Linked DNA regions of Homo sapiens: region 1 is linked to region 2. Evidence: fine-mapped expression QTL. A gene starts in region 2. The other region holds a variant in brackets. All regions are shown on one strand. Distances are between the middles of the regions.

Evidence for each region. PIP is the estimated chance that this variant, and not a neighbour inherited with it, causes the effect. A credible set is the group of variants that fine-mapping cannot tell apart.
Region 1: its variant is the best candidate, but not a certain one, in a credible set for the expression of ZNF358 in whole blood (INTERVAL, PIP 0.58).

The regions. Positions count from the first base shown.
Region 1 is chr19:7,414,523-7,418,907 of GRCh38, forward strand. The region is part of intron 10 of ARHGEF18 (Rho/Rac guanine nucleotide exchange factor 18); the gene reads left to right. Among named protein-coding and RNA genes, the nearest start is that of ARHGEF18-AS1, 22 kb to the left of the region's middle. The variant TTTG/T (reference allele first, on the strand shown) is at 2,384.
Region 2 is chr19:7,513,724-7,518,108 of GRCh38, forward strand. It overlaps ZNF358 (zinc finger protein 358), which reads left to right and starts at 2,380. Exons shown (of 2, transcript NM_018083.5): 1 at 2,380-2,526. LOC105372261 (a long non-coding RNA gene) reads right to left here. Exons shown (of 3, transcript XR_936294.3): 3 at 630-752. RefSeq lists a silencer at 2,212-2,461.

The sequences.
Region 1 (4,385 bases), 99 kb before region 2:
AAATTAGGCTGGGCACGGTGGTTCACGCCTATAATTCCAGCACTTTGGGAAGCTGAGGCAGGCGGATCACAAGGTCAAGAGATCGAGACCATCCTGGCCAAGATGGTGAAACCCCGTCTCTACTAAAAATACAAAAATTAGCTGGGCATGGTGGTGCGTGCCTGTGATCCCAGCTACTCTGGAGGCTGAGGCAGGAGAATCGCTTGAACCCGGGAGGTGGAGGTTGCAGTGAGCTGAGATCGCGCCATTGCACTCCAGCCTGGCGACTGCGAGACTCTGTCTCAAAAAAAAAGAAAAAAACAAAAACAATAAAAATACAAAAATTAGCCGGGTGTGGGGGCAGGTGCCTGTAATCCCAGCTACTCGGGTGGCTGAGGCAAGAGGATCATTTGAACCCAGAAAGCAGAGGTTGCAGTGACCCGAGATCGTGCCACTGCACTCCAGCCTGGGCCACAGAGTAAAATTCCATCTCAAAATAAATAAGTAAATAAATAAATAAAATAATACTAGTTTGAGCCAGTGATTATGATACAACTGTGTTCTCCCCTCCCCCAAAATAAAAACCACGCATGCCATTCAGCTATTCTGCTCCCAAGACCGCTTTCAACAAAGCTGGACCCAAGGACCTTAGTTCCATCCCTTATCCCATTGAATCTCCAGGCAGCTCCATTAAACCACCTCCCTAACCCTGCTCCTGGGCACTCCTGGGTTCTCCCGGGCTTCAGGTAGCACCTTAGGCCCAAATGTCCACCCCTTGCTTAGAGCGCCCTCCTGAGCGCAACACCCCGTGCCAGCGGCTGCCTGCTGCCGAGCCCGCCACTCTGCCCCCCACTTCATGGCCCCTGCACCGCCCCTCTCTGCCACTCTCCACCCTGCCCTCGAGGTCCCGGTCCCCCTGCGTCCACCAGCAACCCCTTCCAGTGTGCCCTGCTCCCCACGCTGCAGCCATCGTTTCGAGAAGCAGAGCTCATCCAATCCTCCACATAAACCTTTCCGTGGCTTCAGGTTCAATGACAAAGTGACTCTCCAAGGGCCCCCAAGGCCCATGGCAGAACCTCCTGGAATAAGACATTCCCTCCACCCTGCCCTTTCCTTTCTCTGACCGGTCCAGACCAGGTCCCTCCCAGACGTCCTCTCCCTCCCTCCCTGAAGCGCGTATTTGTTAAGCACCCACCCACCACATGACAGGCCTCGTGCCAGCCATGACCACAGAGACCCGCAGCTCCTGGAGTTTCCCTTCTAAATAAACAAAACTACAGTTGAGCCTTGGGATTTGCAGAGTCAGTGTTTACCCTTTTGAAGATATACCCAGGAGTAGAATTGCTGGATCGGATGGTAATTCTTTGTTTAATTTTCACCCGCTTGCTAAAATTTCTCTGTAACCGCAACATGAATCCATTCATATTGGTGCAGAGTGGAGAAAACTTGGAGTTCCCACACAGGTTCCCAGCTGAGGCTGAGCGAGGCGACACTCCACCTTCTCGTTCAGCCTCTCACACTGTAAACACATGCCCTGTTGAAGGTCTATGGAGTACCACGGTTTTCGCATTTGTGTGCTTCTTGTTGGTGATGTTAATGTTGAAAATGACCCCTAGCTGGGCGAGGAGGCTCATGCCTATAATCTCAGCACACTGGGAGGCCTAGGCAGGAGGATTAGTTGAGCCCAGGAGTTTGAGACCAGCCAGCCTGGGCAACATAGCAAGACCCTATCTCTAAAAAAAAAATTTTTTTTAATTAGCCAGGCATGGTGTCACACACCTGTGGTCTCAGCTACTTGGGAGGCTGAGGCAGGAGGATCCCTTGATTCCTTGAGCCCAGGAGTTCGAGGCTGCAGTGAGCTACGATCACGCCACTGCAGTCCAGCCTGGGCAGCAGAGACCTCATCTCTAAAATAACAATATAATAATAAATTTTTTAGAAAATAAAATGACCTTCAAACGTAGTGCTGCAGTGCCAGCAAGTGCCCCTGAGTGCAAGGAGGCTGTGATGTGCCTCACGGAGAAAATTCGTGTGTGTGTGTGTGTGTGTGTGTGTGTGTGTGTGTGTGTGTGTGTGTTTTGGGGTGGATGATATTTTATTTGGGTTTTTTTTTTTTTTTGAGACAGAGTCTTGCTCTGCTGCCAAGCCTGGAGTGCAGTGGCACGATCTTGGCTCACTGCAAACTCTGCCTCCCGGGTTCACACCATTCTCCTGCCTCAGCCTCCCGAGTAGCTGGGACTACAGGTGCCCGCCACCACGCCCAGCTAATTTTTTGTATTTTTAAGTGGAAACGGGGTTTCACTGTGTTAGCCAGGATGGTCTCGATCTCCTGACCTCATGATCCGCTCGCCTCAGCCTCCCAAAGTGTTGGGATTACAGGCGTGAGCCACCATGCCCGGCTGTT[TTTG/T]TTGTTGTTGTTGTTTTTTGAGATGGAGTCTCACACTGTTGCCCATTCTGGAGTGCAGTGGCACCATCTCGGCTCACTGCAGCCTTTGCCTCCCAGGTTCAAGCGATTCTCCTGCCTCAGCCTCCCAAGTAGCTGGGATTACAGGCACGCACCACCACACCTGCGTAATTTTTGTATTTGTGGTAGAGACAGGGTTTCACTATGTTGGTCAGGCTGGTCTCGAACTCCTGACCTCAAGTGATCCACCCGCCTCAGCCACCACCCAAAGTGCTGGGATTACAGGTGTGAACCACTACACCTGGCCTGGATGATATTTTAAACAAGGTGGCCTCTGGGGCTTCACTGAGAAGGTGGGCAGGTCAGACAAGATGGCTTACCACCTGTAATTCTAGCACTTTGGGAGGCAGAGGGAGGAGGACTGCTTGAGGCCAGGAGTTCAAGACCAGCCTGGGCAGCATAGCAAGACCCTGTCTCTATTTGAAAATTATACATTTAAAAATAAAAGTTGGCCCAGCACAGTGGCTCACACCTGTAATCCTAGCACTTTGGGAGACCAAGGCGGGCAGATCACTTGAAGTGAGGAGTTGGAGAGCAGCCTGGCCAACATGGCAAAACCCCATCTCTACTAAAAATACAAAAATCAGCCAGACGAGTGGCGCACGCCTGTAATCCCAGCTACTCGGGAGACTGAGGCATGACAATCACCTGAAACCAGGAGGCAGAAGTTATAGTGAGCTGAGATCGCACCATTGTACTCCAGCCTGCATGACAGAGCGAGACTCGGTCTCAATAAAAATAAAATGAAAAAGAAGATGGGGACAGGCAGAAGGAGCAGCAGCCACGGGGGCCCAGTGGGATGGTGACATGTTTGGAGGAGGCCGGGGTGGGTGGAGCCAGGTGGCCCAGGAGAGTGGGAGAGTGAAGGCTGGTGGTAGCTGGTGAGGAGATAGCCTGGGTGGGGCCAGAGGTCCTGGACTCTCTGTAAGAGACCAGATGGTACATACCTTGGGCTTTGTGGGCAGCATAAGGTCTCTGGTGCATATTTTTGCTCTACCAAAGGAGGTGCTGGATTTGGCCCTGGGGCCATAGTTTGCCGACCATTCTTGCAGGTCACAGTGAAGACGGGTTCCTGGGGAAGGTGGGGGCCATGGCAGGGCTTTGAGCAGAGGAGGGACATGCCTGACTTGGTTGTTAGTTGAATCATTCCAGCAGCTACGGAGGAAGTGAATGGTAGTACAAATAGTCAAGGAAAGTATTTGCTTTGTGTCAGACAGCATTCCAGAATGTTCTCTATCACAGCCAACCCCCAGAGAGGGCATTACTGGTTTTTTGTGTTTGTGGGGTTTTTTTGTTTTGTTTTGTTTTGTTTTAAGGCGGGATCTCACTGTCACCCCAGCTGGAGTGCAGTCGCACAATCACAGCTCACTGCAGCCTAGAACTCCTGGGCGCAAGCGATCCTCCTGCCTCAGCCCCCCAAGTAACTGGGAGCACAGGCGTGCACCATGCTTGACTAATTTTTTACTTTTGGTAGAAATGGGGTTTTGCAATGTTACCCAGACTGGTCTCAAACTCCTGGGCTCAAGCATTCCTCCCACTCTGTCAGTGACAGATGGCCACTCTGTCACCTTCTTGCCACCTCAGCCTCCCAAAGTGCTGGGATTACAGGTGTGAGCCACTGTGCCCAGCCAGCAGGCACTACGATTATCCCCATCCTACAGATGGGGGAAATGGAGGCAGGGTGCAGTTAGGTCCCTGGCTCTGGATCTCGGAGGTGGGGGTTTGAGCCCGGGCAGCGTGGCTGCGATGTCTGTTCCTAGCACACCTGCCCTCTCTGCCCCGGCCCATGTGGCTGATGGAGTTGTCGGTGTGGATTCAAGGGGGAGAGAGGGAGGAGAGGAGGTGAAGGTGGCACTCATTGACGGCTCTTTTGAGTTTCCACAAATACTTGTTTCCTGGAGAGTCTTTCCTTTCAGACATCTGCTAGTCCACCTGGCGCCTG
Region 2 (4,385 bases):
TCTAGACAGGTCGTGCATTGCATAACTTAAGGTGCCCTATTCACTTTATAGTCCATGTATGTGGCAACCCTGGCTCTCTATCCCATCTTTCTTTAGTTTGTTCCACATTTTAGGGTTTTTTTTAAAAGATTTTTTTTATTACTCTTTCCTTTCCAGGTAATAATTCCTAAATTAGTCAAGACTGTCACGGATGCAAAGAACAGACATCCACTAAAACCAGCTCAAACACCCAGAACATTTGTTGGTTTGTGGTACAGGAAAGAATGAGTTCTGTGGCTTCAGGTACGGCTATATCCAGGAGCTCAACAAATATAGCCAGAGCTATCTCTCTGACTCTTACTTGTACATCTTGGTGCATATTGTCCTCAGTCTGCAGACCGTTCTTTTGAACAACTGGGGAAAGTGGCTGCAGGCAGAATGAGCCCCCTGTGGCTCATAACCCCAGAAGTAGAGTGAGAACCTCCAATGTCACCTTCTCAACCCATACCTAATTATTGTGGCCAGGGGATAGGGGCCCTTTGATTAGAGTCCAGCTCACGTGGGACTGGGAAGGGGTGTTAGACACATGTGCATCTGGAGTAGTGGAGGGGACCCCACAAAGGAAAAGAAAGTACTGTTAGATTCTGAGCCAAAGAAACAACAGATGTCATCACATGTATTTGTAATGGGATCATCCAGGAAGTGTCAGGATAAGGAACCAGGGGCATAATCCAATTGAAGTTATCTCCAATCTCTCAGATCTGCTGTGGGCTCTGCGGAAAGATGGAAAGCAGGTCTCAGGCTGAGTCTAACACACATCTAGAAGGTTCAGGAAGGAAGAAGGAACCATAGGGTGTCTCTATAAGGAGGACATGGGGACAGAGGAGTATCTTATAGAATTTGGGCTTGTACTTGGTGGTTTGCATTTTTTGTTTTGTTTTTGTTTTTGAGACGGAGTCTCGCTCTGTTGCCCAGGCTGGAGTGCAGTGGTGCAATCTCGGCTCACTGCAACCTCCACCTCCTGGGTTCAAGCAATTCTCCTGCCTCAGCCTCCCGAGTAGCTGGGATTACAGGTGCCTGCCACCACGCCTGGCTAATCTTTGTATTTTTAGTAGAGACAGGATTTCACCATGCTGGCCAGGCTGGTCTCAAACTCCTGACCTCAAGATCCACCCGCCTTGGCCTCCCAAAGTGCTGGGATTACAGGCATGAGCTACCGCACCCAGCCTATACTGGGTGGTTTTACAGAGAATTACTAGGGTGGTATTGTCGGGAACCTGGGAGCGCTTTGCTGACTAGGTATTTCAGTGATTTTTGTCTCAGAGGTGGGAGGATGGCAGTTGGGTTGGAATTGTCGTCGGTAAGAAGTGGCAGTCATTTGTGTTCACTTGGAGAGGGGGATGAGAACTCATTTTTGTGGTTGCACAGGGCCCATGTCTCTATCTTGGTTCAGACATGGTCACAGAGTGGCCTTGCCTCATCATTGTTTATATTCTGTGACCATTGTTTATATTTAGTGGAGAACATCGCGGCCCAGCCATCAGGAGCTGATTTCCACTCTCTCTCCTGGCTGGCAGCGGGGATCTGTGTCTCCAAGGAAAGTTTGCCCCGAGCCCTTCCCGGCCCGGCGTAGGGTTCTCCGGAAACCATCACTCACATCTAGCACTTGGAGGCCTCCAGGGACAGCGGTGACCCACCATCTGGGTAGGAGGCTGAAAACACTAGAGGAGGAATATCCCAAATCTGTGCCTTGGCGGGTGTTACCCAGAAAGGGTGACGGGTTTCACCATGCAAAAAGGAAAAATTGGAGGAAGGCCAGGTTAAGCAAAAATAGACATGTTTTTAGATTGCAGAGCTGAGAGGCTTGGCTGTGCCTATGTGCGCTGCAAGTCTCCAAGAACAACATGTGTAGAGTTTTACGAACAAAGATAGAGTCAGAGACATGGGCAGGAGGCAGAGACAGAGAGAGAGAGACAGACAGACACAGAGAGAGATAGAGGCAGAGAAAGCAACAGAGGCAAAGAGATTGGAACACAGAGAAAGAGATGGGGACAGAGACACAGAGAAAGGAACAGAGATGGGAAGACAGGGACAGAGACAGAGAATGAACAGAGATAGAGAGATAGGGACGGAGAGAGACAGAGAGAGGGACAGGGATGGAGAGAAAGAGATAGGGCCAGGGCCACAGAGGGACTGAGACAGGCCCAGGAGGAGACTAGGGATGGGGCCAGGGCTGCGTGCGGGCGGGGCACGGTGCAGACAAAGGCGCGGCCGCGCGGTCGGGGTGGCCTGGCCGGGGACAAAGGCCTGCCCGGGGGGCGGGGGCAGCGATGGCGACGGCCGCGGCGGGCGCGGGCGAACTACAAGTCCCAGCAGCTCCCGCTGCGGCCCTCGGCCGGCCCCTCTCGCTCCCCGGGAGCGCCTGGCGGGGCCGCTGGGCCGAGGGGGCCGCCGGCGGGGCTGGCGGGCGGGGGGCTTCCTGCGGGCCCGGGGGGAGCCGGCGGCCGGCGCGGGCGCGGCGGGCCGGGCAGGGGCGAGGGGCGCCGGGTGAGTGTCCCTGCGAGCGGGCTGGGGCCGGGGCGGGGGGCTGGGTGGGGGGCGGGCGGGCGGGGGAGCTCCAGGCGCGGGGCGCAGCCCGGGGCGACCTCTAATCGTCCCCCGCCCTGCGCGCCGCCGGCCCTGGCCCAGGCGAGCGGGGGTCGCGGGAGCGATGGGGAGGGGACTCTGCGGCCAGCTCCGGCCTAGCGCACCCATCCCGCCGCTGGGGCCCGGGGGGAAAGGGCCAGGAGGTTGGGAGCCTTCAATCGGGCGGGGTGGGGGGCGCCCGCCAGCTCTGGGGTCTGGAGCTCAGGACGCCCCCTCCCTAGGAGGCGATCCAGGACCCCCTCCCCTCCTGATTCGAGGTATTGTTCCCACCTCCCGCCTGGGGTCTGGAGTTCAGGAGGCCCTGTCCTCAAAAGGGGGACCTAGGGGTTCCCTCTTCCCCCAGGACCCTAGGAAGGGTCCCAGCGATTGTTCCCTTGCCCCTCCAGTCTTGGGGTCTGCAGTTCTGGAAGCTCCTTTCCCTGGAGGTGATCCAGGGGTCCACCTGCCCTCACCCCTGGGAACTCAGGAAAGACTTAAGTGATTTCTCCTCCCACCTTCCAGTTAAGAGATGGGAATTCAGGGGGCTCCTTCCCCTGGAGGCAATCTAAGGGTTCCTCTGCCCCTGATGCAGGAGGGGTCCCAGGTCTTGTTTCCCCCACTCTCCAACTATGGGGTCTGGGTTGAGGACCGCCGTCCAGGAACTCGGCTCTGTTTGCCTGCACACTCCCAGCTATGGGGTTGTGGCTCAGTGTATTCCTTTCCCCAGAAGGGGAGCCACAGGTCCCCCCACAGCTTCTCCCAGGAGCAGATCATTCATTGTTGACACCTCAACACCCAGCCATGGGGTGGGGAGCTCAAGGCATCCTCCCGGCAGGTCATCCTGGGCTCCCATTGCTCCCCAGAAGTGGTTCCAGCTTTTGTCCCTCTACCTCCCAGTCTGCCCCTAGCCACAAGCTGGCAATTCAGTTCAGGATCCTTCCTGCAGGAAGGGCTACAAGTGTGCTGACACTACCCGCCATGTCCCAGCCATGGGAGGAGATGACTCAGGCGTTCCCCCATTAACTTCAGAGGGTCCCCAGGTATTATTTTTGCCTATCCTCCAGCTAGAAGTTAAAATGCAGGACCTTCTAGCCAATAGGGAAAACAGGTATACTGGCCGGGCATGGTGGCTCATGCCTGTAATCACCATACTTTGGGAGGCTGAGGTGGGAGGATCATTTGAGCCCAGGAGTTTGAGTCCAGCCTGGGCAACATACCAAGACCCCATCTCAAACATAAATAAATAAATAAAACAGGTATACTAACAACTGTCCCCACCATCCTGCCTATGGGGTTCATGAGTCTCCCTACCCATCCCTCCTCACCAGGAGGGGTCCCAAATATCACTCTACCATGCTCACTATCTGGCTGTAGGAAAGGGCATTTCCGATCTGTCTAAGAGAGAGGATTTGACACTGACTCCCACCTGGAGCTGTGAGCTCTGGAATTCAGGTTTTCTTTTCCCCAGAGGGCAAGCCAGAGTCTTCTTGTCTTTCCCCAGTGACTTGGGAGGGATACCTGATGTTATTTGTTCCATATTCTTATCCCCCAGACATGGGTTCTAGAGCTCAGAATGCTGCTGCTGGAGGGGGGCCTCCCTACCAGAACTCGCCCCCTAAATTAATCTGCCGCCTCCAAGTATGGGACAAGAATTCAGGCCATGTGCTCAGGAGCACAGAAACGCTGACACCCACACTGTTCCCCATGTGGGGACGCCCAGCAAGGGGGTAGGAAGCTAGGACTGTCTCCTCCACAGGACCCCAGCTTCCCACAAGAGGAGC